Regions from separate parts of the Homo sapiens genome. Here regions 2, 3 and 4 are each linked to region 1. Evidence: fine-mapped expression QTL. A gene starts in region 1. Each other region holds a variant in brackets. All regions are shown on one strand. Distances are between the middles of the regions.

The links. PIP is the estimated chance that this variant, and not a neighbour inherited with it, causes the effect. A credible set is the group of variants that fine-mapping cannot tell apart.
Region 2: its variant is the best candidate, but not a certain one, in a credible set for the expression of DPYSL2 in skeletal muscle (GTEx, PIP 0.82).
Region 3: its variant is the best candidate, but not a certain one, in a credible set for the expression of DPYSL2 in whole blood (TOPMed, PIP 0.62).
Region 4: its variant is the best candidate, but not a certain one, in a credible set for the expression of DPYSL2 in T cells (TOPMed, PIP 0.51).

The regions. Positions count from the first base shown.
Region 1 is chr8:26,509,899-26,517,587 of GRCh38, reverse strand. It overlaps DPYSL2 (dihydropyrimidinase like 2), which reads right to left and starts at 3,557. Exons shown (of 14, transcript NM_001197293.3): 1 at 2,909-3,557. The coding sequence starts at 3,262. It overlaps PNMA2 (PNMA family member 2), which reads left to right and starts at 3,716. Exons shown (of 3, transcript NM_007257.6): 1 at 3,716-3,772. RefSeq lists enhancers at 4,602-5,474, 5,261-5,555.
Region 2 is chr8:26,635,817-26,643,505 of GRCh38, reverse strand. DPYSL2 (dihydropyrimidinase like 2) reads right to left here. Exons shown (of 14, transcript NM_001197293.3): 9 at 1-67. Among named protein-coding and RNA genes, the nearest start is that of DPYSL2, 130 kb to the right of the region's middle. RefSeq lists enhancers at 1-81, 5,057-6,021, 6,022-6,986. The variant T/C (reference allele first, on the strand shown) is at 3,516.
Region 3 is chr8:26,647,567-26,655,255 of GRCh38, reverse strand. It overlaps DPYSL2 (dihydropyrimidinase like 2), which reads right to left. Exons shown (of 14, transcript NM_001197293.3): 11 at 7,456-7,626; 12 at 2,820-2,999; 13 at 1,859-2,024. Among named protein-coding and RNA genes, the nearest start is that of DPYSL2, 140 kb to the right of the region's middle. The variant T/C (reference allele first, on the strand shown) is at 3,435.
Region 4 is chr8:26,591,518-26,599,206 of GRCh38, reverse strand. All of the region lies in intron 3 of DPYSL2 (dihydropyrimidinase like 2), which reads right to left. LOC124901916 (a long non-coding RNA gene) reads right to left here. Exons shown (of 2, transcript XR_007060865.1): 2 at 3,878-7,689. Among named protein-coding and RNA genes, the nearest start is that of DPYSL2, 81 kb to the right of the region's middle. RefSeq lists a silencer at 7,133-7,182 and an enhancer at 7,395-7,689. The variant A/G (reference allele first, on the strand shown) is at 3,618.

The DNA of each region.
Region 1 (7,689 bases):
AAGGACCCCTGGGCACTGACAAGGGGGGATTGGGCCAACAGAGATGCCTTTCTTCTCTCTCTTCCAAGAGGCTCAGAGTCTTTCACAGTGGTGATCAATGTAACCTCACTGAAGCCCAAAGTGGACTTATAGGAAAAAGAGAGTAACAAGATAGAGGCTTTCCTCATTCACAACCACTATGCCAGCTCTTTTCCTCCGCCAAAATCTGACATGCCGAGTCAAGCCACACCCATCGCTTTCTGGTGCTGTCTGGCTCATACTCTGAATATAATTTCATTTAGTTCCTGCAAATGCACATGTCCAACATCTCTCATCTTCCATGAGCCATGTGGCATGTGGGTCAAGGAAGCCTATTCTCTCCCTTCCCAAAGCCTTGTTAGGGGAACAGCAGGCCTCTTAGTGCAACAGATGAGCAAAGCCACATCTGACCATACATTAGTAACACATAAATAAAGCTGCAAGAGAGGAGGGATGGTGTGAGTCAGGGTCCCAGGATCCACCCATTCTCAATCTCCCCCACCTTTCTCTGCGTCAGGGCTTCCAATTAGAATGCACAGAGATGCTGGCACTCACCCAACTCATTCGTTGAAAACCAACTAATGACAAGTCAACTCAGTCAAAATGGTGGGCCAGTTGAGCTTTTCGGAAGTCACATTGTTATAAATATAAACACATGTATAGCCACAGCCTTTCCCCTTTTCTAAAGACATGAAATATTGAAACATTGCAAGTACTGATCCAGGTAAATGCTCTTAGTCGTGAATGACAAAATCTCATTGAGTAGGCCTTATATGATAAGGCAAGATTAAACATGAAAATTCAGGGGAAGGTGCTGCAGAAAGGCCAAGCTAGAATCGCCCTCTGTTACTAATAACTGGGCAACTGAAATCAATGTGAATTGCAATCTAAAACTCCCTTGCAGTTTGTTTGAGTATTTTCTCTTCAAATCTCCCCCTCTGCGTGCCTTAGTTTTACAATTTAGAATTTCATATATCTAAGCTTCTAAATGGCCAAGAAAAAAGAAGTGTTATTCAACCCGATAAAACTATGCCTTTCAAACTTGAGTTCTAATTCATGATAGGGGTGGGCCACTTTCAACCCCTATCCTCTGATCTGCCACTTTTTACATGATTTCTTCTTTATTCTCCAGTTGTTTTTCTGCTTTCTCTAGGACATCACAATCACCAGCACAACTCGCCATGCATGAGGCTACTCACTCAACCAAGATGCTATATGATTTTGGCCCTCACTCAATGTACTCACACAGGGAAGTGTTTCACACACACTCACTCAGCTTTCAGTATAAGTTACATTATTAGAAACTTTTACTTCAATTGTCTGATCACTTGGAACAAAGCAAGTTTTTTGGATTTAGTTTCTTCTGGTTGACTCATAGTGAAATATGGATATGAGACACTCCCTTATATGAATAAATTAGAGGGCAGGGCTGGGGTTGGATATAAATTATTAGTTGTGTCACCTTTTACAAATGACAGCAAATGCCTTGTTTTTCCTAGACTTGACCCTACAAAAGTCAAAAGCTGCAAAACTCTATGTCACATCAGCAAACAGTCAAATCATGCCCCAACCATCATCACCAATTCTGAATTGTTCTCAAAGGCTGTCACTGTAAGTACACAAATGTAAATGCTTGTGGAATCCCTCGCTGAATATGTATAGACCACTCCCAACTACTCTGGAAGCCCTCTGAGAAGAAGAAACCTCTTGCACTTTCTATAACTAACCTTCCCTCTGCCCTACAAGGCAAGGCGCACAATAGGTATTCAATCAACAATCATTCATTGATTGACTTATTATTTTTACCAGCAGGCATGGGAGAGAAACGGAAAACGTGTTAAAACATTTTGCATTGTAAATTATCAGTTAAGAAATTAAGGCTGTGGAAAAGAATTACACTAGTGTAAGGATCACTCAGATAAAGAAAGAATTGTGGTGTGAGATTATTACTGCGCTGAAAATGCTCACTGTTCATATTTGTCAGAAAGTGACAAACATTTTCTAAAATCAAGCGTGACCAAATTGGCCTTTGTTTCCCCCATTAACACAATAAAAGGGGGTTTAGTCTTCTTCGACAGTCTATTTCGAGTGCGAGGGGTTTTCCCCCTTTTCTTGTCTTTTTGACCCTTTGAACATAATCCACTTAGTTCCCCGCTTCCTAAAGCGCCTCCCACATAGCGGTTTGGGGAGCGCTCTGTGAAGCCCCGGCTGAGACACTTATTGGAACTTTGTTCCCCACATAGGCTATTTAGGAGCGTCTCGGTTTCCTCGGGTGACTCCACAGCCTTCCTGGCTCTTCTCACGCTGCGAGCAGGAGTCAAGGGCGGTGCGGTGCTCGGAGGGGGTCCGGGGGGCGCTGACCATGGTCCTGGCCTCGGAGCTCGGGACGTGAGCGCAGAAGGCGCGGGCGGAGGCTGTAGGGAGCGGCCGTCCGAACCCCCGCCCCTCCCGACCACCGGGGAGCCGCGGGCCTTCACGCAAAGCCTCCACCGCACGCTCTGAGCCGCTCAAAAAAAGGGTGGGGCACCCAGCCGCAGCTGCAATCGGAAGCCGCCCGGGAGGGTTTCAGAAGAATGGAACCGCGGCCAACCCCCTCCCAGACGACCACCGCCCGCCCCAGCAGGGGATCAGCCCATTCCCTATGCCCACGCCCCACCTCTCAAGCTCAAGGAGACGCGGGCAGCCTTTGTGGGCGCACGGCCGCCCACCGCCCAGCCCGAGCCTCGCCGCACCCTGCGCGGAGAAGGGGCGGGTAGGGCGGGGTGCGCGTGCAGATGCGGGAGGCGAGGTCCAGGGCGGGGCATGAAGGCGGGCGCGCCGGGCTCAGGGGCGAGGGAGGGGCGATCCCCGCGCCCCGTCCTCCGTCTCCACCCCCAACCCCCACACCGACCTGGTCGTTGATGTTCTGCAGGGCTTCTTTGCCCGAGGCCCTCCGGATCTCCACCTTCCGGCCCGATTCAACAGATGGCTCTCCGCCGGCGCGCCGGCCCTGCCGCGAGTACGGCGGCTGCGGGTCCGGGCCCAAGTGGGCGACGTCCCGCTGCTGAGCCACCACCTGCCCCGAGCCCCGGCCCACCGACAGCGAGTCGAAGTCGATGGTCTTGTTCTCCGAGGACCCTTCCACCGGGCAGAACATGCCACAGAATTTCTGCCGGGGCTTGGGGCTGCCGGAGCCCAGGTTTTTAAAAAAAGCAGGGACCTCTTCGTCCTCTGCCGCCTTCCCGGATTGCTTTCTCTCGGCCATGGCTCGGGGGCTCGGGTAGGGTCCTCGCCGTCCGTCCGTCCGTCTGCCAGTCCCTAAGTCTCCCTCGCTGTGTGCACAAGCCCCCTAGCTGCTGCCGCGGCTGCCGTTCGCCGCCCACCGCAAGGTGCACAGAAAGGAAGGAGGGCTGGCGAGCCGGCGACCCACCCTCCCGGTCCCTCCCCCTGACCCCGCTTCTCCCCTCCCTGCCCACGCCCCCCGCGGCTACAGCGCGAGCTCGGGGAAGCGGCAAAGTTGGATCTGGGAGGGCGTCCGCTGCGGCTGCGGGAGCCGAAAGGCTGCCAGTTCCCGGCAGCGCTGGGAGGAGGGAGGCGCGGGCGGGGCGCGGCGCCGGGGAGGGGAGCGGTGCTCAGGGGAGGGCTGGAGGGGAGGGAAGGAGAGAGAGAGGGGAGGGCGGCACCGCCCCTAGCCCCGCGCTCCGGAAGTGAAGCGGCCAGACCACCAGCTAATGGATGCGGAGCGGAGGGCCCGCTGACCGCTCTCCGCGCCTGGGTAAGTATCGGGCAGGGCACGCGGAGTGAGGACCGGAGGACGCAGCCCCCAGCCCCAGTGCCCCTCTCCTCCACCTGCCTGGCCCAGGCGCCTCTGCCCCGCCGCATGGCGGAGGTGGGCCGGGGGCGAGGGCGCACTGTGGATAGGGGTCCCGCCCCGTTACCCTGGGTGTGAGCTGATGGATGGGAAAAGGGGACAAGCCGGGCGCCAGGCTACTCAGGGTGTGGGAAGCGGGATGGCACTGAAGATGAGCAAGGATAGCACAGGCAGGGTGGACAGGAGGGGGGCAGCCAAGACGCTGGACACCCCAGCTTCAGTTTGTCCACTCGCCTTGGCAGGCTGCAGGGAGCAGAGACTGAAACGAGAAGGTTCCCGCTTCGTGCATCCACTTTGGTGTGGTTGGGGTGACGGGGGAGTGGGGGGGGGGCACACAACATGGCGGGAAGAAATTCAGAGGGGCGTAGCAGATGGGAGAGGAATATAGAGAGAGACGCAGGTCTGCGGTCTATGGGGGTGTAGCAAAGAGTGCAGTCGGGAATTCCAGCCCAGGGCCACGACTTAAAGACGGGGTGCAGACCGACTCTATTGCGCAAGGCGCCATGGACCGTGTCTGCGCCACTGCGCCAAGAAGGGCGCAGGAACGTGTCGCGATTTGGTTTATTCTGCTTCCTCCACCAAAAAAAAAAAAAAAAAAAAAAAAAGAGAGAAAAAACAAACTGAAACCCCCTTCCCAAATCTCCAGCTTTCCCCTGCGCCCCAGAGCCCCGCCTGGTTCCCCCGCCCCTGTTGCGCACTGCGCCACAGTCGCAGCGTTTCCCGGGTTACCAGATGCCACGTGTTTGGGGAGTAAGTGCGGGTGCGCATCTGGTGCGGAGTAGGAGGTAGGATGTGGGCTGTGAGTGCCATGAATTGTGTGGGGCCAAGCAGGGGAAAGGTGTGTAGGAACTTGGTGTGTGTGTGCAGTAGCTGAGCCACGGCCACCGGGTTGGTAAGTAACCAGGGGGCAATTAGATTTGTGTGCCTAACACGGTCAATGCTGGTCCTTCATTGCTTATTCCCATCTCCACGTCCTTTCCGCGTATCAGTCCCTGCCTCTGCGCGATGACAGCTCCGCCTCTCTTTCCACAGTGGCAAAATCCTGCAGAAATGGTGCCCCTCCTTTGGTGGCCCGGGAGGGAGTTCTGGGCATGCTCAGTAACCAGGGTGGGTTTGGGCTGAGAGGCCGTTTACCGCAGGGCCACCGCGTAGGGCCGTGTAACCAGGGATCCAGTCCCATTGTCAGCCCAGGATTAAATGCGGTTACCAACCACCCCCACAGTCCAATTGTGAGAGATAGTTTGGTGAATATAGTTACATCTGCTGGACAATCAGTCGCAATTTGAAGATCAGCCCATCTTGATAGGTGGAAAGGCGTCTCCGGATGAGAAACAGACTGGGGAAGAAGAATATAGGAGTGGAGGGGCTGAGAGAACCGGAGGGGGCATTTTGGACTTAGCGGCAGATGTGCTTTGCATTTGAATAAAGCATTTGAAAAAAGCGCTTCCAACTGAATTACATCATTTCCTACTCACAGCCCCACTGTGAGATGCGTGCCTTATCAGCACTGCTTTCCAGGTTAGGAAACAGATTTAGAGAGCTTGGGGCGCATAGCCAAGGTTGGGTATTTAGTTAAATGATCCAGCAATTCCAGTGGGAGTCTTCCACCTCAAAGTCTGGCTTCTTTTCCAGCTTGTCCTGTGACCCCCTTTATGTGAGAAAATACAAGGTTCTTCTATTTCTACCGTATCCAGATATTTCCATCCATGGCCCTATTGTATATCAAGGGTGTTTCTTGCCATGTTTTTATTTGAAGGTAACACTGCAGGTCACACTGGGAGGAAGAGTCATCTGAAGATAGCCTAACTTCAGCATAGCAGTCATTCTGTAGACCATAGAGATGCTTTTTCCTGGGCAGTGTCTTTTTACATTCCCTGTTTCCTCTAAATATCCCAGTGGGGAGGAAGGTTGCCCCCAGCTGGTTTTTTTATTTTTGTTTTTGTTTTCAGACAGAGTCTCACACTGTCACCCAGGCTGGAATGCAATGGTGCAAACGCAACTCACTGTAGCCTTGACCCACTCGGCTCAAGCAGTCCTCCCTCCTCAGCCTCCCAAGTAGTTGGGACTACAGGCGAGTGCCACACGCCCAGCTAATTTTTTTATTTTTCCTTTTTGTAGAGACAGGGTCGCACTATGTTGCTGGTCTCAAACTCCTGGGCTCAAGTGATCCTCCCGCTTTGGCCTCCCAAAGTGCTGGGTTTACAGGTGTAAGCCACTGCACCTGGCCCTCCCCCACAGTCCCCACATTTTAGAAAGGAAAAGTCAGGCATGGAGAAGTCAGCAGTCTCAGGTCTCTGGGGCTCCTGGGCACAGGGGTGAAGCAGCATTTTGCCCTCCTGGCTCTCTGGCACCCCTGGTGCCTTCAGCACTTCCCAGAAGACTCAGGAGATCTTCCCACAGCAGGAGCACTGCTGATAGAGTTACAGGACAGCACTGTGGCGTATGGCCCCCATTCGAATTGATGAAGATGTTTAGGCCAAGGGGGAAATGGTTGTAGCCCCTTAACACACACTCCGCAGCAGTAACTGGGAGGTATTAGGAACTCTAACTTTTTTTTTTTTTTTTTTTGAGACAGAGTCTTGCTCTGTTACTCAGGTTAGAGTGCAGTGGTGCAATCGTGGCTCACTGCAACTTCCGTCTCCCAGGTTTAAGCGATTCTCCTGCCTCAGCCTCCCAAGTAGCTGGGATTACAGGCACGTGCCACCACACCCAGATAATTTTTGTATTTTTGGTAGAGACGGGGTTTGGCCATGTTGGCCAGGCTGGTTTCGAATTCCTGACCTCAGTGATCTACCCGCCTTGGCTTCCCAAAGTGCTGGGATTACAGGCATGAGTCACCACGCCTGGCCAACTCTAACTTTTTTACGTTCTCTAATCCTCACAGGTTCTCCAGAACAAAATCCTTGATAGGTGTGCTTCCTCCTTTTTTCTTTTTTCTCAAATGATGGGTTAAAGTTCAAATGTTAGGAAAGGCTGGGTGTGGTGATTCAAGTGTGTAATTCAGCACTGTGAGAGGCTGTGGCGGGAGGATTGCTTGAGCCCAGGAGTTTGAGACCAGGCTGAACAACGTAAGGAGACTGCGTCTCTACACAAAATTTAAAAAACTAGCCAGGCATGGTGGCATGTGCCTGTGGTCCCAGGTACTCAGGAGGTCGAGGTGGGAGGATTGCTTGAGCCCAGGAGAGATCAAGGCTACTACAGTGAGCCGTGTTTACACCACTGCATTCCAGCCTCGGCAACAGAGTGAGACCCTGTCTCAAAAAACAGAAACAGAAACAAATGCTTGGAGAGTGTTGTGTTAGTAACTTATTGTCTTAGTCTATTTTGTGTTGCTATAAAGGAATACCTGAGGCTGGATAATTTATAAAGAAAAGAGGTTTATTTGGGTCACAGTTCTGCAGGCTGTACAAGAAGTATGGTGCTGACATCTGCATCTGGTGACCCCTCAGGAAGCTTCCAGTCATAGCAGAAAGCAAAGAGGGAGCAGATGCGGCAAGAAAGGGAGCAAGAGTGAGGGGAGGGAGGTGGCAGTCTGTTTTTAACAATCAGATCTCGAGGAAGCTAATAGAACAAGAACCCACTCATTACCCCAAGAATGGCACCAAGCCATTCATAAGGGATCCACTCTCATGACCCAAACACATCCCACCAGGCCCCACCTCCAACACTGGGGATCACATTTCAGCATGAGATTTGGAGGGGACAAACCTTCAAACTATTTCACTTACCATTCATAGCAAAAGCAAAGCCCAAATGTGTGTTTGCAAAGCCTTCCAGACACAACAAAAGAGAATTAATTCATAATTCCCGATTTAACTTAG
Region 2 (7,689 bases), 130 kb before region 1:
TTGCTCCAGTAATGGGAGCCGTCCGTTCCCAAGCTGGCAGTGATGGGCTCGCCATACACCACAGTTCCTGACAAACAGAACACACAAGGTTCAGTCCAACACAATGCAGGGGGAAGGGAACCACCCCTATGAGGAGCCACTGCCTGCCCAGCAGCACCCAGTGCACTCACTATCCCTTTATAGGAAATATCAGGCTCATCTCGCAGATGAGGAAACTGAGACTTGGAGAAATTCAGTACCTCTGCCAGCCTGTCATGAGCTCCCCAAGATTCCACCTTCAGCCCCTGCTCTTCAAACAACACACCCTCCCTATAGGATCCCAGACATCCTGAAGGCTTCTGTCTCCTACGTTGCTGATTTTCAATTCCATTAATCTCCTGCTCGGATGGTGTCCAGGCATCCGGTCCCAGGTGCCATCTGGACTGTTCTTTATGCATGGCCTATGGCACCTCAAATTTAACCTTCCTGTTCATTCACACAATCTTTTCACAATTCCTAGCCCTTCACAGTGTCTAGCTCTGACTAAAGGTCTGCGGGAGGAAATCACACATGACATCACCAGGGCGAAGTATTTCAGGGCAAATACATAACCCCCCAGATATCCTCAAGAGACAGCCTGGATCCCTGAGTCACTGCCTGGAAGAAGCTGTCCGTTACAGCCACCATCTTCACAGCTGACTCTGTGAGAGAGAAACAAACTGGACATTATGCCACTGGGATTTCAGAGTTTCTGGAAGCCTAGCCTAACTATATTAATGCAATGTCCAAGACAAACATCAACTCCCTGATGCTCAGATCATGTCCTCTTCTCTGTCCATTCAGATGTAAACCAGAAAGTTGAGACTCATGTACATTCGCTGAATGCCAATACCTTAGTGCCTTCAATACAATCGTTCCTTAAATCAGGCCCTCATCATCTCTCGCCAGCTCATTCCAACAGAGCCTCCCAATTGGACCTTAGATTTACGTTTGCTCTCCCAACCCCGCTTCCTACCTCTCCATTCATTCCGCATGACACTTCCAGAGTGATCCACTATAATATAATCTTTCCATGGCATTCTCTTGCATAAAATCTTCCAAAGGAGCCCTTCTGCATTCAAGGACTTAAAAGAAAATCCTCCTCACCAAAGCATCAGATGCTCTTCACTACTGGAAGCTGATCTCCTCCTTTAACATCGTCCAAAACACAACTCGGGTCTCACACCCTTCACCTGAGAATCCCATCCTCCCCTCCAGTCATTGCCCAGTTCTGAATTTTTGACTTTCCACCTGATGGAGACACCTTGAAGATCATTTACCTGCCTGCACATAGTAGGCACTCCAAAAACGTGTGTTAAATTGATTAAATGGTCTAATATGTTATTAATTAAAGGCATCCAAGCTGGAATTTGATCCCAGGTCAGCTGAATTCATCTCTCACTAGCTCCCCCCAGCACAGGGCTAACTCCCACCCCACAACAATGCAGCCAAGCTTCTCTACTTCCCCAAACACAGGGCCCTCAAGGGCAAACACACCACAGTCAGGAATGTGTTTTCCTTCCTCTCCACAGCCTTTCCGAAGGCCTTATCACTTGATGATACACCACAACACCCTCCCTGTCGGCCACTCTGAGAGCTGGCTCTGCACAGCTGCCCCCTCCTGCCTCAGGAATTTCACAAAGGACTCGCTGTTCAGCTGGGGAGTGCTGGAGGCCACAGCAGGCAGCTCACTCCAGGCCACCAGCAACCACGCCCCCACCCCCAGCAGGAGGGAGGACTCCAAACCCAGGGAAACCTCCTCCAGAAGGAAGCCCCAAGGAAGAAAAGGGCCAGTGCTAGGTGCTCGGAAGGCCTAGGAGGGTCCCCTTGGCTCCTGGCCTGCTCAAAGTCTCCCATGCAGAAGCTGGTGCAAAGAGCTATCAGGTGGCTGCACAAACCACTCCGGTTCATCCCGAAGTGGAAAAACACCACATAATGAGAAGGCCTTGGCCGCTGCCAAAGACCTTTATAAAATGCAAATGGCTGGGCAGGACCCAGCAGCAGTCATCAGTTCTCAAAGGATCTCTCTGGCTCCCCGCTTTTGGTTCAAGGATCAAACAGATCTGGTTAAGCAAAACTCTCCTGACCCAGCCAGGCCTGGAGGTCCCGCTGGCCACAGTCCATCTAAGCACAAAGGTGAGGGCTGTGTAAGTCACAGGAAAACAAGAGATGCGTGGCCCTAAAGGCTTCCTGCTTTTGTCCACATGAAGAAGTTCATGAGAGCAGAGGCACTTGGAGATAAAGAATGGCTGGATAGTCTCTGAAAATCCCTGGACACACATAAACATTTTCCTGAGTTTCCTGTAACTTGCCGACGCTCATCCTCTCCCTGTGCCTGCTCCTCGGCCCTGCCTCTAGAAACTTAAGTACAAGGAGGGGCTGGTTCTTGGAAAGTGGCCTGAATACCATGGGGATGAATGCTGCTGACCACAGGCTTATCTCTCCCTGCGAAACACAACTCAGCTTGGGGTGGGGAGCTGCTCTATGAGGAGCTGGATTCCCCTTCTCTCTGTGCACAGGAATATCTACCTCACTTCAAGAGAATGAACTTGGCCTTCTGCCTCTAGAAAACCCAAAATGGGGTCTGAGCTCTCAACGCCACTGCTGAGCAGAACCTGCCTCTTTAGACAAAGGCTGAGTGGACTTCTGGGCCACAGCTAAGCAAAGATAGGGACATTCAGGGGCAGGGGCAGTGGATGCCAGGGGAGGGATGGAGCCATCCTGTGGTTCATTTCTACTTTGCTCTGTTCAACTTCCCTCAGGGATTCAGAGGTCCTTGCTGTCTTTTGGATTTTCTTTCTTTCTTAGCCCAGAATCAGCGACAGGAGTTTAGCCATCATGTTCCAGGCCTCTACCTCCACAAGAGTATGATCTATACATAGAGTCTCTGCCTCCCATCCCCAGTGGTCTGGAGCTCCCAACCCAGGGCTCCCCTCCTGGGTCTATAAACATTCACAGGAGGGTGCTGTGGATGCACTTCCGGAGCTCAGCCAGGCCACAGACACCCTTGAACTGCATGCCAGAAATAATTACCACTAATAATAATAAACCACGAAATGGGCTTAATTGGCCCTTCTGCACTTCTCTAAATACACTGCTGATGCTATCTGGGTGCCCGTTAGACCTTTGTGATTTTCTTCTCCAGGTAAAGTCTAAACTGAAGGATGTGACCAAGCCAGCCTCTGGCAGGCTCTCTATAAGGCCAAGAACTGCAGGGGATGGGAGCTGGTGCTTATTTACAACCAGTCTGGGGCCCGTGTGCATTCATGAAGAATAAATGGAAGGCTGCGGTTTAAATATGCTTGATAGCTCCCAGCTCTGGCAGTCATTTCCCATGGACGAGAAGCAGGAGAACAAATCCAAAGTGGGAACTGTGGGAAATCAGTATCTGTAGCTCCATATGCAGCCACCAAAGCACAGTGAAAACCAACTGGGATGGACAGACAGACAGACAGTTACACACGCTCTCACCATTCTCCTTTGCCTTTCCAAGAATT[T/C]ATGCCAGACCCTAACAAACAGCCTGGGGACTGTGCTGTCAGGTTTTCGTAGCAAGAGTGGTTCTAGAAGAACATCATCTTAAAAATGAGTTTTCTGAATGGGTTCTGAGGTTTCTGAAATTCGTTCTCAGATCTGATTGGGTTGAAAGGCACTAATGATTCTACGTCCAGTAGTAAAAAGAGGAGAGTACAGGGCATGATGGGACAATAGAGACACAGAAAATATTATTAAATACTCCCAAAGGCTTCTAAGAGGCAAGGTTCTAGGTGGGTGTGTAGCAGATACCTTAAACATTTTTGTAAAATTAACAAGTATAACGAGAGTGGTTGGTTGCTCCTAATTGTACTAGACAAAGTGGGGGAAAAAAGAAGAATGAATTCAGGGATTCAAATTCCCAGCTCAAGCACCACATGAATGAATCAAAAGTTTCTATGTCTGCCCTTATGTCCCATAGATGCAGAGCTGAGATGGCTGAAAACCAGAAGTAGGATCTCATCCTGGCAGTGGCTGAATTACAATGCAAATTGAATTCCCAACCTTGCAGACCATCTGCCGTTAAAAGTGAGGGCATAGATTGGGAAGGAATTCTGCCTTTGGACTCCGATGCCAACATCAGCTCTTCCTTGGTTCTCCAGTCTGTGGCCTGATCTGCAGATTTCAGACTTGCCATCCCCACAATCGTGTGAGTTGATTCCTTAAATATAATTCTTTAAAATAAATCTTCCCCCTTTCTCTACTGTCCTCTCTCCTCTCTCATCCCCCTTTTCTGTTCAAGATTGCAACATCAAGCATAAGCTTAACTAAGGACTCATCCCCAAGCTGAGGTGGTCCTCACAGGCCCTGCGACCATGTGCTTCTCATAACGTTTGAGTCACTCCTATTGACCCACAGGACATAAGAGGTCTTATCTCAAATTGAGGTTCCCAGGGTTTAATGTCCTGAATGTTTCTGCACCCGGGTTATGGGAGAGGGGTGAGGAGGAGGACGGAAAAGAATGTCCATCAGATGAGGTCATCAGGCACTGCCCACGGCCACCACTCACACATGGAAGGCATCAGCAGTCATGCTGGATTTCACACATGGACAAAATGTGGTCAGAGGGAGCCCATTCTAGAGAAGAAATCCCCACAAGGGGCCCTCCATGGAAAGAGAGGTGGCCAGGAGCCTGGAATCATGGTTTCTAATTCCCACAGGCTACATGAACCAGGGCAAGATTTTCAATTTCTGCATTTCTACTTCTTCCATGAAATGAGCCTATTAAGTTGATCAATGTCTAAGTTCTTTTCAAGAGTAAAAATGCCCCCAGGTCGTCTGGTCCTGGCTCTGTGTTCATTGCCTCAGCTGCCAAATTGGGTTGATGACACACCACTCCCCGGCTGAACACGCCATCCTGCTGAACAGCCACAGAGCGGCTGATGGAAGCAGCGTGTCTCTCAGCGTGTCTCTCAGGGAAGGCAGGATGCAGTCGTGCTGGCTCAAGCAGGCACGTGAAAACAGTTCTCATTCGTTTCACCTCATATCCTCACTTCCCCGAACTTCTCTTGTCTTAGATTCTGGACCAGCAGGTCTTGGCTGGGGAGGTTCATGTGGATCACTAAGAGAAGGAGACATTACTACTCCTCCCAGGGCAGGATTATCATTTTTCAAAGCTCACATTTATAGCAAAATTTCGAGTCTGCTTACGCAGCCTGACCTCTCTGAGACTCCCTTCTGGGCTCAACCTCTCCTGACTTGTACCCCTTTTGTAGCCCCGACTACCTCCCAATGTGACTTTCCACTCAGCATCCTTCCCCTGCAAGTCGAGGAGCTAACTGTGGTTGGGACCATTTATTTTCCTGGTACGCAGGCCTAAAGTATCACATCATGAAAATGCATTCAATGAATTCAGAATCTCTCCATTCACAGAGGAAGAAATGCAGCATCAGAAAGGGGGCTGTGGCAGTGCACACACTTGCCTCAGGGGGCCAGAAGAACCCACCTGAAGTGGACAAACAATTCTGAGCAGAAAACCCTTGTCCAGGGTCAGCAGGCATCTTTACTCTGCTTTCCTCGCAAGCTCAAGGTTAGACCAGCCCCTTCATCCTGTAGTCACAATAACTGGTCACGCTTCTCATCTCCATCTTTACCTGCAATATCTCATGTACACATCATCATCACCCTGTGAGATGAGTCATGGTTACTATCCTCCCCTTGCAGATGGCAAAAGGACATGTGGAGATGATGAGGAAGCACCCAGCATCACGTGGCTGGTGTACAGTGGAGCTGGGGTTTGATCCAAGAATGAATACTGATCCTGGAGGCAAACAATTAATACTCCCTTACAGAGCTTTCCTTCTTGGTCATTTGGGAATCCTTGTGTGTACATTACCCATATCTCTGCTGGGTGTCAGGCCACTGTTTCAATCAGGATTCTTAAGGAACTAAGCCCCAACAGACACAGGTCACAAGCATCACCGTATTAAAATAATCTCAAAGCATGAAGGTAAGTCAGTCAAACATTTACACGGATATTTGTGGCCTCAAGTTAGATGCCTGACAGTCAAGCCCCAATTCCACTATACATGAGCTCTGAGCTTCAGTTTACTCAGCTGCAAAGTAAAACAAAATATAAAAATTCCTGCCAGGGCTGCCTCCCAAAGTTGCTAGGAAGTTCCAGCAAGATGGGAAAGAGCCTAAGAGCCTAGGAAGTTAGCTAGGACTTCTCATTCCTGCTCATTAGCACCTGAATGCACTGGAAATTCCTTTCTGGCAGCTCAGGTTTGTCTAAAGCTCAGGCTTTCACAGATTAATGGGTAACAGTTTGAATGCAAATGCCATCCTGGGAACCATGGTGTGGGCACATTTGGACTCACACTCAGAAGGCTCTGGAAGGGAACAGACTAAAGTCCCCTCCTACTGCTCACCCCATAAGACACACAGTGTGTCAAGGTTATAAAGACAATAGGGGTGGCCAGGTGCAGTGGCTCATGCCTGTAATCCCAGTATTTTGGGAGACCGAGGCGGGCAGATCACCTGAGGTCAGGAGTTCCAGACCAGCCTGGTCAACATGGTGAAACCCCGTCTCTACTAAAAATATAAAAATTAGATGGGTGTGATGGGGGGGCGCCTGTAATCCCAGCAACTAAGGAGGCTGAGGCGGGAGAATCGCTTGAGTCCAGGAGGCGGAGACTGCAGTGAGCTGAGATGGCACCACTGCACGCCTGCCTGGGCGACAGAGTGAGACTCCATCTCAAAAATAAAATAAAATAAATTAAAAAAAACAACAACGGGGGCTACCAGGCACTGAGTTGGGGTAATAGGTCCAAACTGGGCACCGCAACAACACACTCCAGCTCCGCAACTCCACCTGAGAAGAACCCTGAGGGACAGAGAGGAGGAGGCCTGCGGCAGGGCTGGCCCACGACTCCACCTCCCCCAACTAAAGTCTGGGACATGTAGGACCCCTCCGTCTTCTCATTTGGACAGGTTTGAATATGAAGTAAACTTTAGACAAGGTCTCTATCCAAAATTACGTTGAAATGTTAGCCTAACTCACGTATCATCATCATCTAGGTACAGCGCAGTAGTAAAATACAGAAAATAAGCCGTCTCATTCTTTCCCCCTTTCAGACACTATGCCAACCATCCCCACACTACGTGGGGGCAGCAGTGCTGTGGCCGGCCTTCTGTACAGAGGCTGATTCCCACAAATGCGCTGCCTTCTTGCAAATGCGTGTCTGGGTGGCCCAAGGCCACCGATTCCATCGTCATCCACAATATCTCCTAGAAAACAACTCAAAGCTCATTCTGAGTAGGTTACATTATTTTAGGTGAATGCTTTCTTATTTCTAAAAGGCAATTCCTTCAAGGTGCCAGGAGAAGACAGAAAGGCAGCAACCATTTGATGTGTAGCCTAAGGACAGAGGCCCCAGGAGCACTCCAAAGAACCAGGGCCAGGAGTCGCTGGGTCCGTCTGGAAGTCATCATCTCTGGGACAAGATGACTCAGTCATCATTGAGCAATTTGTTCCAGGGCTTGCAGCAAGTCACCCGCCAGTGAAAAAAATCCCACAGCCCACCTTGATCCATGTGGATTGCATGATGCAGGGAAGTAGAAACCAAGCCATAGAGGTCAAATGGCTCCCTTCCTAACAGGGAAAGAAAGACACAGAGAGAGAATGACAGAGGGACTGAG
Region 3 (7,689 bases), 140 kb before region 1:
CAAAGTGCTGGGATAAGAGGTGTGAGCCACCCTGCCCGGCCTCACATTCTTTGTTCTTCTCTTAAAACCTCACTGAAGTTTAGACTACAGAAGGGAGGTGGAGAGCAGGCATGGTGGCTCATGCCTGGAATCCTACTAACAGCACTTGGAGAGGCTGAGGTGAGAAGATTGCTTGAGTCCAGGAGTTTGAGAACAGTCTGGGCAACACAGTGAGAGCCTATCTCTACAAAAAAAAAAAATTAAAAAATTAGCCAGGCGTGATGGTGCAAGCCTGTAGTACCAGCTACTGGGGAGGCTGAGCTGGGAGGATCACTTGAGCCCAGGAGGTCGAGGCTGCAGTGAGCTGTGATTGCACCACTGCACTCTAGCCTGGGTACTGGGTGACACAGTGAGATACTATTATATCTCTAAAAATAAAAATAAACTTTTTAAAAAGGAGATGAGCCTAAGGTAACCAAAGAATCAGACACTGTATAAAGGTTGTTGGATCTATTACTGGAGAAAGTAAAACTATATACAAAATATCACTACATCTTAGACTCTGTCCTGTCCCCTGTTCTGATTAGTCAAATTGGCTGTGGCTTTTCTGAGGACATAGCCCTCTTCTGGCATTCTAATCCCCTAATCCTACACATATAATCACAAGTAGGAGGAACGATGGCACCTTATATTGGAACAGCTTTGAGAGATCAGAAAACACAGACATGATTATACACGTTTTACTTACAACAAAGTAAAGTTCCTTATTTTTAAATGTTTTGAAAACTGGTAATCCATATATGGGACATAGGTTACTTTCTAAAAACCCATACAACCACCAAGAAAAAAAATTCTCTCTGGTTTAACAATTTCTTTAATACGCCATAGGAATCTGTGGCCCAGGGAGCTGGAAGAGTGGAATGTTCTAGTCATGGGACAAATGAAAGATGGGAAAGAAGTTTCAAGCAAGGAAACTTAAAAATCTGAACCCTTTCCTCTCACCAAGGGGATATCACACAAATTACCCAAGCAAATACAACTAACAGTTCTCAAATGGCCCCATTCTAAGCACTGTACATATATATTAACCCATTTAACCCTCACAACAACCTCACGGGGGAGCAACTACTATTATTGCCATTATACAGGTGAGGAGACTGAAGCACAGCCAGAGCTGAGCCCTGAAGTTAGGCTGTTGAAACTCCAAACTCCACAAGCTAAACTACAATATACTGTAGGAGAGAAGAGAAGTCCTGAAATACCACAGTGTCCTTTCTTATGATGGACCTAATAAATTGAACAAATGTCTTCTTAATATATTAGGTAAAACACAGTATGGGCATTGTGTGACACAAACTGATCTCAAGATTCTGAAACCCAACCAGTCATTAACTATGAAAATACATCTCCAGGCCAAGCTAGGCTGGGCCCGGTGGCTCACACCTGTAATCCCAGCACTTTGGGAGGCCGAGGCGGGCAGATCACCTGAAGTCAGGAGTTCTATCAGCCTGGCCAACATGGTGATACTCCGTCTCTACTAAAAATACAAAAATTAGCCAGGTATGGTGGTGCATGCCTGTAATCCCAGCTACTTGGGAGGCTGAGACATGAGAATCACTTGAACCAGGAGGTGGAGGTTGCAGTGAGCCAAGGTCGTGCCATTGCACTCCAGTCTGGGTAACAGAGCGAGACCCTGCCTCAAAAAAAAGAAAAAGAAAATACATCTCCAGAGATCTGAGTCCACTGTATTTCTCACGTTGGAGAGAAAGGGAATATCATTCACTTCTATTTCTGTGTCCTTTCCAAATGCAACTGTAGCCTCGCCAGCACCAGCGAGCTGGCCCTGCAGAACTGTGCCCTCCCCAAGCCCCAACCCTACCAGACAAACTGAATCCAGACTGGTGCAGGTTCCGGACAGGTGGGGCCTGCTGCTTGGCAGGAGACGTCTTGGCCGAGGAGGCTGGAGTGACTGTCTTGGGCGTCACAGACACTTCACACACAGGTCCGTCATACAGGCCACGAGGAACCCCTCTCAGCTCAGCCAGCTGCAAAACACAAGAGTCCCCCCAGCTCAGGCCACAGCCACAGAGGATACCTCTCTAGAAACCCTCCTGGAGGGAGGATGGGCCTGTGAGATCTAGGGATGGAGGGCTCTCCTTACAGACAGGTGGACAGGTGTTGTGTGGGGCCAGCTCCCACCATGCCAGGCCAAAACTCCCCACAAGGTCCAGTAACTGGTTAACTCTACAAAAACTAACACACCTTACAATTTTTCCCCCAAGACACTTCAACTTTAAACCCTGTAAGAATCCCCTAAGCATGCTGTGAGGCGGATCTGGTATCATGTTCAAGATCTGGCCCCAAACTTTCTTTCCAATTGCATTCTCTCCTTTTAATTCCCTTATAGCTCCATCTCTTTCCTGCTTCACATGCCCTGAATACACTGTACATTTTCTATGCTCATGATACTCTTATCAAATTCCCTCATCTCCCTTCTTTGACTTGACAAACTCCTACTTAACCTTCAAAGCCCAACTCAAAATGTCCTCTCCCCATGACACTCTCCCCAACTACAGCAGTGGCTCCCTCCTCTGGGTCCTTACTCCACACTCCTTATCATAGCATATACCATGATCTCACTTTGCTAGGGCTCTCTGTGGACACGACTGACTCCTTCTCCAGTATTTTAAATGCCAGGAATAAAAAATTCAGGCTCCCTCTTATCCCTGGAATCCACTAAATTCATCTTAATATTCTGTCTCAAGGTGCTTAATAAATGTTTGTGGCCTTGAACTTAATTCGTGATTTAACAAAAAATTCATCAGAACAAAACTACTCACCCTGCTCCTTGCCTTGATACGCTTGTAAACAAAATCAGGGAAGGGCTTCCGGGGAATGTAGCGTCCAGAGCCTTCGGTGACATGCAGGGTGCCGTCCTCCAGGACAATCTTCCCCTGGCTGATGACCACCAGTGGGGAGCCGCGGCACTCCATGCCTTCAAAGATGTTGTACTCGAGAGACTGAGAAGAAGGCAAAGTAAACTCTAGAACAGGCCACTCTGGCTGGACTCAATCCACCCGGCAGCACCCACTGCCCCAACCCCACAGAGACAAAAGAGAGACTCAGAGACAGGGATCCTGTCCCAACTGGGCACCCCAGCAGGCACTTACTTGCTGTGTCTCCATTTCCCTGTCTAGAATATGAAATAACTTTTTCTACCTCTCCACATTAGAAAGAAAAATAATTAAACAGAATAATTGTGTGAAAAGGGTGCATGTTTGTAAATGCTACACAAATATAAAGAAAATGATTCTTCCTATTAACAGAGACTGTGTTCCCACCATCTCCAGCTCCATTCCGGTTGAATTCCAAAGGCCTTCTCTGACCAAGTTCTAAATTTAATCTTGAAATGAGCCATCCACAAGTAGGTTTTCCCACTGGCTAGCCTGGTTTTC[T/C]AGTCTGTTTGCGGTGTGGTTAAACTGAAGTCCCTAAATGAAAGGATTGTGGTCACTGAAGAGACATGCCTCCGATAAAATGATTGAGGGCTAGTTAATTTCCAGAACAATGTAGCTATGTAGCTATCCTTCTGGTTTCAAGTTTTTCCGGGTAAAACAGAGACATATCTGTGTGCCCTCTTGGAAAATAGGTGGGGTCTCCATATGGATGTGAGTTTGTGGTTGGTAATGAAGCAACAGAACACAGGAGTCATTGCACAGGAGTCATTCCATCCTGCAGCTTCTGCTAACCCAGTGCTACTTCCCAGATCCCAAATGCCTCCCGCTTCTTCCTGCCTGTTTGGTTCACGGGGACCAATGGCTGTGGCTGAGTCTGGACTAGAGGATTAATAGGTTGCTCCAACCATAAAAAGCACCCTGGGCTTCTGGGAAAGTTCAGACCAGGTTATCAGCACTCAGGGAGCTGGCCTCTGAACAGAGAGCTGTGCTAGCACCCTGCAGTTCAAGATGACATTTCTGCTTAGTGCAGCGGCTGGTAACACGGATTCGGCCAGCTCAGCAGCTCACATCAGGCATGTAAATGCACAATGCCCCGCATACAATGTTGGGTGAAAACAACCACGAGGGCTGTCAGTACATTGCTCTGAGTCTCAAAGCAGTCATGCAGAAGCTACCAAAGGAACCATAGCAGAGAGGCGCCAGCAGGGAGGGAAGAGGACTCTGCACTTGGATTACTGAGACCCAAGACTTAAAATTGTCTTTCATCAATTCTAAGACACTCATCCCTGAAGTCAGAATGTGTCTTATAGCAGCCGGAGCCACGCGGGTACTGCCAGCCTAGACTAAATCCAAGTTCTTCTAGGGGGATATGGGTTTGTTTGTGCCACTGGGTTGGGGGACAACCCCACTGAGGGCATTTTACAGTAAATTCTCAGCTTGACATTGTTCTGGACCACACAGGCGGCATGCATTCAGACCACAAGGCTGGACAAGCACCCACTTCCAGTTCCAATTCTTGGGGGAGACATTTTTCCCTCTTGGCAACCAATGCCAAGGTCGAGGCCTGCGAGATTTTCTGCCACCCCTGTCTGCACAGCAGATGGTCTCCCCAGAGATGCCATAATAAGCACACGCTGGCCCTTGGTGGCCCAGTCTCCTATGAGACTCCTCGTCTTGGGCATGTTTTCTTTCATCGTGGTACATAACCTAATGGAATATCTTAAAATCGATGGCATCTCAGATACGGTAAAATCCAGAAGTTGTGTGACTCTGGGGAGATTGCTTTAATCCTGTCTCAGCTTCAGTTTCTTCATCTGCACCCTCCCGAGGTGTATGTGAAGATGACAATACAAAAAGCCTCATCCCTGGTCATCTCAGAAACAACCTTTGAAAGGGTGTGAGTCATCCTTTAAGGCCTGGATCAAGAGCCATCTCTTCCACATCACTCCACAGCTAACAGTTTATGCCCTGACAACCTCCTCTTGTGCCCTACTGGGTAGAGTATGGGCGCAGCCTCGGCCATGGAGACATCTGCCCTGGGTTCACACCCCAGGTATGCCATTCACCAGCTATGTGACTTTGGATGCATCCCTCACACCCCTGAGCCTCCACCTCCTCATCTGTGAGGGGTAAGTAGGTCCCCCTTTGCAGGACTCATGTGAGAATCAAATGAAATAAAATGAACAAAAGCATCTAGCTCACTATTTGGCTCACAGTAGGCATTTAGAAAATCTTCACTCATTCACTGTCTGGCTCTTTATTGCACTTTGCTAACACTTGCCAGCCCTGCAGCATCCAAGATCTCACACAATGCATGCGTTGAGTCTTGTTGCTTATAAATGAGCACCTAGAAGACCTCTGGGGCCATCTATCATTTTTAAAAGATGGAAGAACCAGCCCCATGACTCTCAGTGACTTAACATTGACAAGTCCAAGGGTCAGATCACAATTCCCAGATACTCAGAGCCTACTCTCCATCAAACCATGATGCAGGGAGGCTTCCTCACTCACCATGCATAGACATTTTTAACCTACATCCACACAGGCTCCCTAAAATTACTCATCGGGCCAGATGCCTGGAAAATCCAAGCAAAGGCTTAGCAACAGGGCTGTCGATAATAGTTAGCTAGATGCTCTGAACTAAAGCTAATTAGCCTCATGGTAGGAAACACTGTACTATGCAGGGAAAGTCTCCTGGTTGCATTTTCCCAGAAGATGAACGAACAGGCACATGCTTAGTGCTGGCTCTTTAAAACAGGTGGGGATGGAAAAGCACCGCTTTGAAAGTCAACATTTCTTCCATAGGTCACCTGGAGGTAAAAGCAGGGTAGGTTGGGGTGAAAATGTCTGGAGGGCAGAATCTGTCTTCCCAAATCTTCTCTCCTTCCCACTGTCTCGTCTTCTAGGTTAAGAACTCCAAATGCAAGTTCCCCAGCTAGGTCATTTGTGTCTTAAATAACGAGCCCAGCCAGCCATTTATAGCACCTCTGGGGGAAGCAACCTTGCAAGAGAGGGGAAGCATTTTCCCCGTCTAAGCCTGACCAAGAGGCTGCATATGCAGTCTGGCAGGGAAGAGTCCTGAACAATTTTGGGTTCTAATTCTGGCTCAACCGCAAAATCGCTATGTAACATTAGACTGGTCACTTAAGCTCTCTAAGCCTCCGTTTATTTATTTTCCCAAATTGGGATAATAATACCAGTCCCTTTATTGAGAAGGTCAAATGAAAGAGTCAATGAGAATGTGAAGTTACAGGCACATGAATAGGGAGGTTCATGGGGCAGGGCCCTAGGATCCCTGACCATAAAATAGCCAGTCAGGACACCCAAGAAGTCATGATCTGGGCTGTAAGGGGCGCGATCATAAGGCTGCGCTGCCAGGCTGAGCCAGTGAGTGGTGGTGGGAGAGGGAGAAAGACAGCTTTAAACACAGACTTGAACAGTCTTCTGAGAAACACCCACCACCCTGGTCCTCACAGGTGGCAGAAGCCAGAGCTGAGCCTGAGCCCATTGCAGCCCAAACACCTCTGTGTGTGCAAATGAGAGAGGACTGGGACAGGGCAAAGTCCCAGGGTTGTCCCGGAGAAATGCCAGAAACCTGCCCTAAGCTGTCGTGGTGTGTGGGGGAGGTGTCAGTGCTTGCTGGCCTGAGCTGTCTTCAAGATTCAAATGAGTTCCTGACACGAAACTCTTCTGCCCGAGGCCCATTTCTTTTCCAAAGCTCTCCCTCTGGGCATATTCCTTCAGTTTTTCTGCCTATACCATGTTGCTTGTGAGGAATCGGCAGTGTCTAACAACTCTGCTTAATGTCTGCTGACCTCACAGAATCACAGGACACTTGGAGACCTCGTCTGAACCCCTCACTCTCAGCTGAGGAGCGTAAGACATTAACAGACTTGCCCTGGGTCCTGTTAACAAGAGAGGACATCTCTAAGCTCTAAAGCCCAGACCCAGAGGGAAGAGATACCCAAAGCGGCAGATCCTAAAACAACAATCAAATGGCTGGGGGGTACTTCTGTTAGGGAGAAGTCAGTCAATCAATTCCTTTAAGATAATAAGAATGGCTGTCATCCAGTTTTCTGCATGGATACTGGCCTGAGAAAACAATGGCTTAAGAGGATCAAAGTCCCCAGTGGGCATCTCAGGAGAGGACATCTCACTGCTTCATTGAGGTCCCTTGCACCAAGTACTGCCATGAGAAGTGCTGTGCCAACCTATGAAAATGGAGCGGTGCCTGACTTCTGGAAGCTTTGCACATCCTGACATCACTTTAGAGGCTCTAAAGGTCTATAGATAGAGAGGCTGTGGTATTCCAAAATGATTATGAGAGTAACAATCTTATTGACCTCACTAAAGAAAATGAAATAACTATTCTTTTCCCAGCAAATTGCAAATCATAACATCCTCAGTCGAGCGCATTCCCATCACAGCAAGTTCTTTTTAGAAACCCTGGGGCTCTCCCTCCGTCTGTGTCTCTGTGACTGTAATTCGTTTGGATGGGGTCTGCACAGTTAACAGGTCTTACGCTGTTGTGTGTCTTGGCAGAGATGGTTTTAACGCTGTCGGGGTCCCAGATGACCAGGTCGGCATCGGATCCCACAGCAATGCGGCCTTTCCGGGGGTAAAGGTTGAAGACTTTGGCTGCATTGGTGCTGGTCACAGCCACAAACTGGTTCTCATCCATCTTCCCAGTGACCTGAGGGAGACAGCATAGGTGTGCACAGGAGGCACACAGCAGAAACGAGTTAAAAAGTTACTT
Region 4 (7,689 bases), 82 kb before region 1:
CAAATGCCTACAAGCCACAGGACCCAGGAAATACCGCAGAGTGGACACTTTCCCCCTCTACATAAAAGAACCTATTTCTTTTCTATGCATCAGCTTCTCCAGTCCATCTTTCATTAAAAGGACTTGCCATGGAATGAAAACTCATATTTCAGGACTAAGATGGACAACAGGCCTTCTCCAGCTCTTCTCTGAAAAGTGAGCTTTTCGGTAGAGAACGAGCTTCCTTCACAAGAAGGGCACTCCCGCTGGGTGTGAGCCAAACGCACATGCACGACACTTGCGCAGCTAAGAATACGCACAGTGGGGAAAAGGCACAGAAGCAGCCCCCGTCCTGCCCGAGTGCCACATCCCTTTCTGGGCTTTCATTCCCCCACCCCCACCGCCTGCAAAATGAAAGAAAGATTGCAATAAACAAGGTGTAAGTCTCAAACCTGCTCTTCACCTGGAGCTTGTAATCAGGTGTCAGGCTCCCATCCACCCACAAGGAACAGAGAGATTTTGGTGTTGAAGCTTCAACCTGCCCTGCGAGCCAATCTTTATTTCAAAGTACTTTGTGCTGTAAGCTAACGGGAAAAAATGATCAAATGCCTCAAATCTCCCGTAAGCAGGGACTGTGCCTGGGGGGAAAGGTGCTCACCAAGGTGGGGGCACATCGGGTGTCTCCTGGTGCTTTCTGCTGGCACTAACATTCTAAAACATGAAGCATTAAGTACAGCAACATGGATCTTCCTTTTTTAACATGGAAAATACGTTTTCATAGAGCAGGAGGGAAAAGAACTCTCTAAAAAACAGAGCTGAATAGGCTTAGCAAGAAAAGAAATTCAGGAGATGGAGAGGAGGAGCTCTAAAACATCCACAAAAAAATAAACCATTTCATAGCAATGCTGACCATTTTAATTGATTCTCGACGACAGAAGAACACAAGAAAAGGTAGATGATGTAATGCGATGGCTGCTGAAGGCAAAAGTCACAAAACAAATTTAGCCCTTCGAATACCACAGTAGCCACGGGTCAATATAAAAAGCTTCAACGGTCAGGAGCAAAACTGGGGTGAAGGGGCTACTCCCCCATACATGTAATTTGTCCAAGCCCTGCCATAGCCACCACCTCCCTGGATCCTCAAAGCAACCCTATTATGCAAGACATGCTGATCCAGGTGCATCTGACGATTCAGAAAACCAGGACCAAGCCGTGGGGCACCGAGCCTGAGCTAATAAGCAGCAGAGTCGACCCTGGCACGAAGGTCTCCCAGCTCCATGAAGATGCATCATCAAGAAGGTTGGGCCTCAAATTCTTTCCATTACACTTCATGTTTCTCCCTGGATTATCTCCATAAAGGAGAAAAACAATACCCAGAACACAATTCCAACTCTGAGAAATTGTCTGATCTTCCTCCTTGTCTCTGCCCCTCAAAAAAAAAAAAAAAAAAAAGAGGCCAGGTGCGGTGGCTCTTGCCTGTAATCCCAGCACTTTGGGAGGCCGAGGCGGGTGGATCACAAGGTCAGGAGATCGAGACCATCCTGGCTAAAACAGTGAAACCCCATCTCTACTAAAAATACAAAATATTAGTTGGGCGTGGTGGCGGGCGCCTGTAGTCCCAGCTACTTGGGAGGCTGAGGCAGGAGAATGGCGTGAACCTGGGAGGCGGAGCTTGCAGTGAGCTGAGATCAAGCCACTGCATTCCAGCCTAGGCAACGGAGGGAGACTCTGTATCCAAAAAAAAAGAAAAGAAAAGAAAAATGCCATCTGCCCGTGGTGTTTCCCAAGCAGACATGGGAGGTGCTGAGCCTAATGAACCTCATAAAAGCCCACGCCAAAGCGATTCAGAGAAATGCAAAAGATGAGTGCCAGGCAAGGGCAAGGCAACCTCGGAGCAGCCTACGTGACAGAAATCAGCTCAATCTGGCCCCGCATGGAAGAAGGCTCCCGGGCCTCCCAGAAGAAGGATTAAGTTCAGTTGATGAATGCATGGCATCAGTTACTCCTCTTGATTGCTCTCCAAATCCCCCTCTGGGATGCAAGGGGAGATCTAGGGCATCAACCCAGGGCTTCTGTAGGAGAGAAGAGACACCCAATATACCACCGTCTTGGTGAGCATCTTCCATGCTGGGTGCAGCCTCCCACTTAGTAGGAGACGTATGATATCTGATCATTTTCTGCCTATATATTACAGAAAAAGTACTTTTAAATAACAGGTGGATGGAAGGGCAGGATAAAACTTGAACACCAAAATCTTTCTGTTCTTCCAGGATGGATAGGAGCCCTGTACCTGAGGGCAAACTCAAGGTGGGTGCTGTGTCTGGGATTGTTGTAAAGCACCTGTCACAAGGCTGGGCACAAAGCAGCTTTCATGAGCAGGCTGTCTAACTGCTACAAAACAAACGTTCCTCTCGCATTCTAGGATATGCAAGGGCCATTGGCCCAGAGCTTGGATTGGAATCCCAGCCCTCGCACTTGCAGGCTCTGTGGCTTCAGGCAAGTCATTTCACTTCTCTGGACTGCTCATTACTTCATTTATAACAGGAGGATAAGCCTATCTATCTTCGGGGTTGATGGAAGGATTAGAAATGGTGTATGCAGGGCTTGCGTCCCACAGATTCCCGATAAATGATATCAATTATCTGCTCCCTCCAAACTCCTCACTTTCTTCTAACCATCTCTTGTGAAAAGGACAGAATCACACAACTCCTACCCATGACTCCCGGCAGGTCTGTGGAGAGGTCCAGAGAGCAACTGCTAGGGTCATCCCCTTCCCGAGCTCACTGGAGGACAAGAGGACTCAACACGTGTCCTTGTGTCCTTTAGAGTGACAGATGCCTGGGTTTGCCTAGGACAGCCCTGGTTTGCACTGCTGTCCTGCAATCATTTTTAGTAGGATATAGAAGTGTATTCGTTTGGACAAGAACCTAAACGTTCATCCTACAAAGAGGGCTGAAGCCCCATCTAACTGTGCAAAGTGACACAACAACACGCCACCAATGCTGTGCCCAAGCTGTGGCTTTCTGCCCAGTTTCCATTTAAAACTCTGAAGCTAAAGTTGCACTTCCTCCAAAAGATTAGGTCCTCCCTCACTGGGCTCAGAGTTAGCTCCAAAATATCTGTCAAGGCCTCAGGGACAGTTTCCTCATTCAACTCTCTCCTTGCTTTAAGGATGGACCCATCCTACCTGCTTTTTCATCCCCTGTGATTTCTGCAGCTAATGAGCTAAGGTACTAAATAAATAAATAACAGTAATTAAAAAAAAAACAAACTCCCAGCTGAAGCAAAAAGGCATGAGATATGCCTGTCCACACAAAGAAGCTGCTCGCCTCTGCCAGAACTGGCTAATAATGGGTCCTCCCTTTGCTTTCAGTTCTGCTGGGTCCATACTATCCCTTGGTTTGACACTACAAAAGAGGAAGGAGCCACCAGCCACACCCGGCTGGAGAGAAGAGAGCTCTGCCCTCTGCCAGGCCTCTCCCACGCTGCACTGCTGGGCATGGTAGGCCCTACATGACTAAATGCTTCCTTAGCCGAAACACCCACTGGGGAAGAATTTGTCACCAATACTTCCAGCAGCACGACCCTGCAGCCCTGCCTGGAAGCTCAGCAAACTGCAAGGCAGCGGGGAAGAGGGC[A/G]GAGGTCTGGTTCAGCGAGGAATGCAACCCCCCTAGCAGACAATGCAAGGAATCCACCATGAAAAACGGAGGGGCTTGAATTCAACAGCACAGCAATGGCCACTTATAAAGTTGGCCTCATTTGAATGCCAAAAAAGGCTGAAAATTCAAAGATAGCAAGAGTTATTGATTTGACGGGCTGTTTTCTGGGAACACTGCTTTACATCTGCAGGGCCAGATGTGTTGTCAAGAAAATCAGGCTCCAAATTCTCCAGAGATTATTTGGAGGAGGAAAAAAAAAATAGCGAAAAGTAAAATTTTTATTTTCTTGCATAAGAAGTCTTCTTACAGGATTATAAGCCCTATAAGCTACATTATACCTTTTTTTTTAAGATGGGGTCTCACTGTCTCCCAGACTGAAGTGCAGTGGCACAATCATAGCTCACTGCACCCTCAAACTCTGGGGCTCAAGCAATCCTCCTACCTCAGCCTCCCAAGCAGCTAGGACTACAGGTATGTGTCACCACGCCCAGCTAATTTTTTATTTTTATTTTTAGTTATTGATTGATTGATTGATTGATTGATTTTGGTAGAGACAAGGCTTCACTTTGCTGCCCAGGCTGGTCTTGAACTCCTGGCGCCTTCAAGTGATCCTCCCACCTCAATCTCCCAAAGTGCTGGGATTACAGGCATAAGTCACCATGCCCAGCCAATAAGAAAGCTTCTTATACATCGTTGTTTTTCCTGCTATGTTCAAAACGCAAACTCATGTACATAGGCTTGAAGTTGAAACAATCCTTGAGACTTCTTCCTGATCTCACTAAGTGACAGTGAAGTGAGATAACCCATCTGGAATCAGGTGGCATGCAACTGCATCTTTGGTATATGAAAGATGAACAGATGAATGGTCAATTGATAGATTAGATAAACAATAGATATATACAGATAGATTAGAAAGATGATAGATTAATGATAGATTAGGATAAGTAAAACAGATAAGTGATAATCAATAGATATAGAGACGATGGATTAAATAGAGATGATAGACCATAGGTACAGACAGATGTCATATCAAGATAGATATAGACCAGATAGATATATATCAATATATAGATAGATTAGATAAATGATAGGTAGGTAGGGAAATAGATAGATGGTAGATTTGGTAGACGATCATTTCGTAAGCTTCTGGAGGCCACCTGGCTATAGAATTCACCTATCCCAGGTCATGCTAGATAGATAAATATATATTAATAGATAGATAGAGATAGATGATAAAAAGATAAAGATGGATACAGACAGGTGTGAGAGAGAGAGAGAGGGAGATCTTTTCACACTTGTTCCAAAGGTGTCACAATGATTACTTTCAAATAGTATGGCACAAAAAAACTCACTTTTTCCATAGTCGTAAGACATAAGAATTGATTGTCTCCACTTTACACATGTGGAAATAGCCATCTAGAAACACATTAGGATGATCACGCTCAGACAGAAAGCACTAGAAAGGGAAGTTAAACTTAGATCTGATTCTTGGAGCGCTCCCATCCTGTCCTGTTGAGTTACTTACAATCCCATCCTCTGAAGCCTGGTCCAATAAACCGTGCCCAGCTGTGGGAGCGGGGCTGGGAAGGAGGTGAATGGCTGCCTTAAGAGTCCATGATTCTATGTTATTATCAGGCCCTTTTGATTTTTGTCTCACAGGCTCCCCACAAGGAAAGATTCCAGTCCTGACCTATCATTAGAGAGTGATTAGGTCATAAACACTACAGATTCAACCTAAAGACAGTAGGGTTTTCTCAGGGAAACCAGCACAGCAGGTGGCCACAGGCTGGGGACAGCAGTCCACATTCCAGTTCCCCTCTGCCCCCGGCACCCACCCTGTCCCACCAGCCAGCCCTGCTCTTGCTCATCACCACTTACTCCAAGTCCTAACCAGTGCCCTTTTAGGGAATTAGCCAAGTAAAACCTTCCCGAACACCAAGGACAGCAACTGAAGGAGGAGGCTCTTTCTGGTGACAATTAGCTCAGCCCCTCCATGGTTAAGCTTCTGGGGAGCATCTGGCTGTAGACTCCACCCTGGCCAGATAGCAACAGTGTGATCCCACTCCCTTCGTGAAGAGGACAGGACAAAGCAGGGAGCAGAGGGCAGCTCTGGGTTTCGGAAAATCTTGGCAGACATTCATTCGGTTTCAACAGAAGTCCAACTATCAGAACAAGCACTGGGATCCATGATTCTTAATCCCAGCTATCACCTTGAGGCTTTCAAAACGACCAATGCCAGGCCCACCTAGAACAATTAAGTCAGAAGGTCTGGTCTCTGCATTTTGTTACAACTCCCCAGGGGATTCTAATGTGCAGTCAAGGTTTTTAAACCACTGCCCTAGTTCATTGCAAAATTCTCTTAACTGGACAGCAGCCTCAGCCACCGCGACCCAACCCCCAGCAACATCCTCTCTGTCATTAGGGGGAACACTTAGTCATATTCAAAGAAAGCTACCTCCCAAATGGGTTAACCAGAAAGAACTCTAATTTCTACTCACTGTCACTCCCCTTTATCATTACCATGGCAGTTAAGACGCTCTAAAAGCAAGGAATTTAAGCAAATGGCTTCACCCAACAATCACGGAGAGTCAAAGACAGAACCCTCAAAACCTAAAGAAATCAGTAATCACTTCTTAAGAAGAGAGAAAGGTCAGCTTGGGGAGGAAGAGGAAAAAAAAAGGGAGAAACAGCCCTTAATGGGTGACTTGGGGTCAGAGCCATGGATGGTTAAGTCAGAAAACACAAATCCCTTGGCCACCCACAGTCAATCTTCCCTTTAAAACTAATGTACCGGCCGGGCACAGTGGGACATGCCTGTAATCCCAGCACTTTGGGAGGCCGAGGCGGGTGGATCACCTGAGGTCAGGAGTTCGTGACCAGCCTGACTAACATGGTGAAACCCCATCTCTACTAAATACAAAAAAAATTAGCTGGGCATGTTGGTGCATGCCTGTAATCCAAGCTACTTGAGAGGCTGAGACAGGAGAATGGCTTGTACCTGGGAGGTGGAGGTTGCAGTGAGCCAAGACTGCGCCATTGCACTCTAGCCTGGGCAACAAGAGCAAAACTCCGTCTTAATAAAAAAAAAAAAACAAAAAAAAAAAAACTAATGTACCAAACAGGCACAGTGGCTCACGCCTGTAATCCCAGCACTTTGGGAGGCCAAGGCAGGAGGATCAACGGAGGCCAAGAGTTCATGACCAGCCTGGGCAACATAGCAAGACCCCATCTCTACTAACAAGTAAAAAATTAGCCGGGTGTAGTGGTGCACACCTACAGTCCCAACTACTGGGACAAGAGGATTGTTTCAACCTAGAAGTTCAAAGCCGCAGTGAGCTATGATCGCAACACTGCACTACAGCCTGGGTGATAGAGTGAGACACCGTTTCTAAAAAATAAATAAATAAAACTCTCTGCACCATTAATTTTTTTAAAAAGGGCAGAATGCTCACCTATTATGGGCTGTCATAAAAAGCTAAGAAAACCAACCCAAACCTAGGCAGGGAAAATGAAACAGGTGCTCTACCCTGGTTCCTGTCTTGAACAGAGAGAGGGATATTAAACGAAACTACTAAAAACTTACAGTGTGGTTAGGTGTTTTCTTAAGCGACTCCGTGGGTATATGCCTGCTTACTAAACACCCTTTCCCCTACAACTCAACACGGAGGCTACACCAGGACCAATCGCATTGCAAGCTTTGCAGGGGAGGTGGGCAGAGGGGGAGGCAGTGCCAGGATGGGTTGGTTTCCATCCTGTGCTTCCCCAAGCTCTGGGATTCTCCAGAGGCAGAGGGGCTGCCATGGGGGGATGACAAAGAGAAAGCGGAGAGGATCTGGACTCCCCCACAGCCCACCTGCCACCCACCATTCCAACCAGAGCAGTTCTGCATTCATCAGTCTCATATCTCAGGTGGAGGGGGTTCCACGCAAGGTTTCACATGAGAAAGGGTTGCCCCGGGACAACAATGCTAAAGCTATCATGAGTAGAAGGAGTAACGGGTCTGGCTCCCATCAGACTCATTGGGCAGCTTCTCTGGCTGCCCCCACAGCCA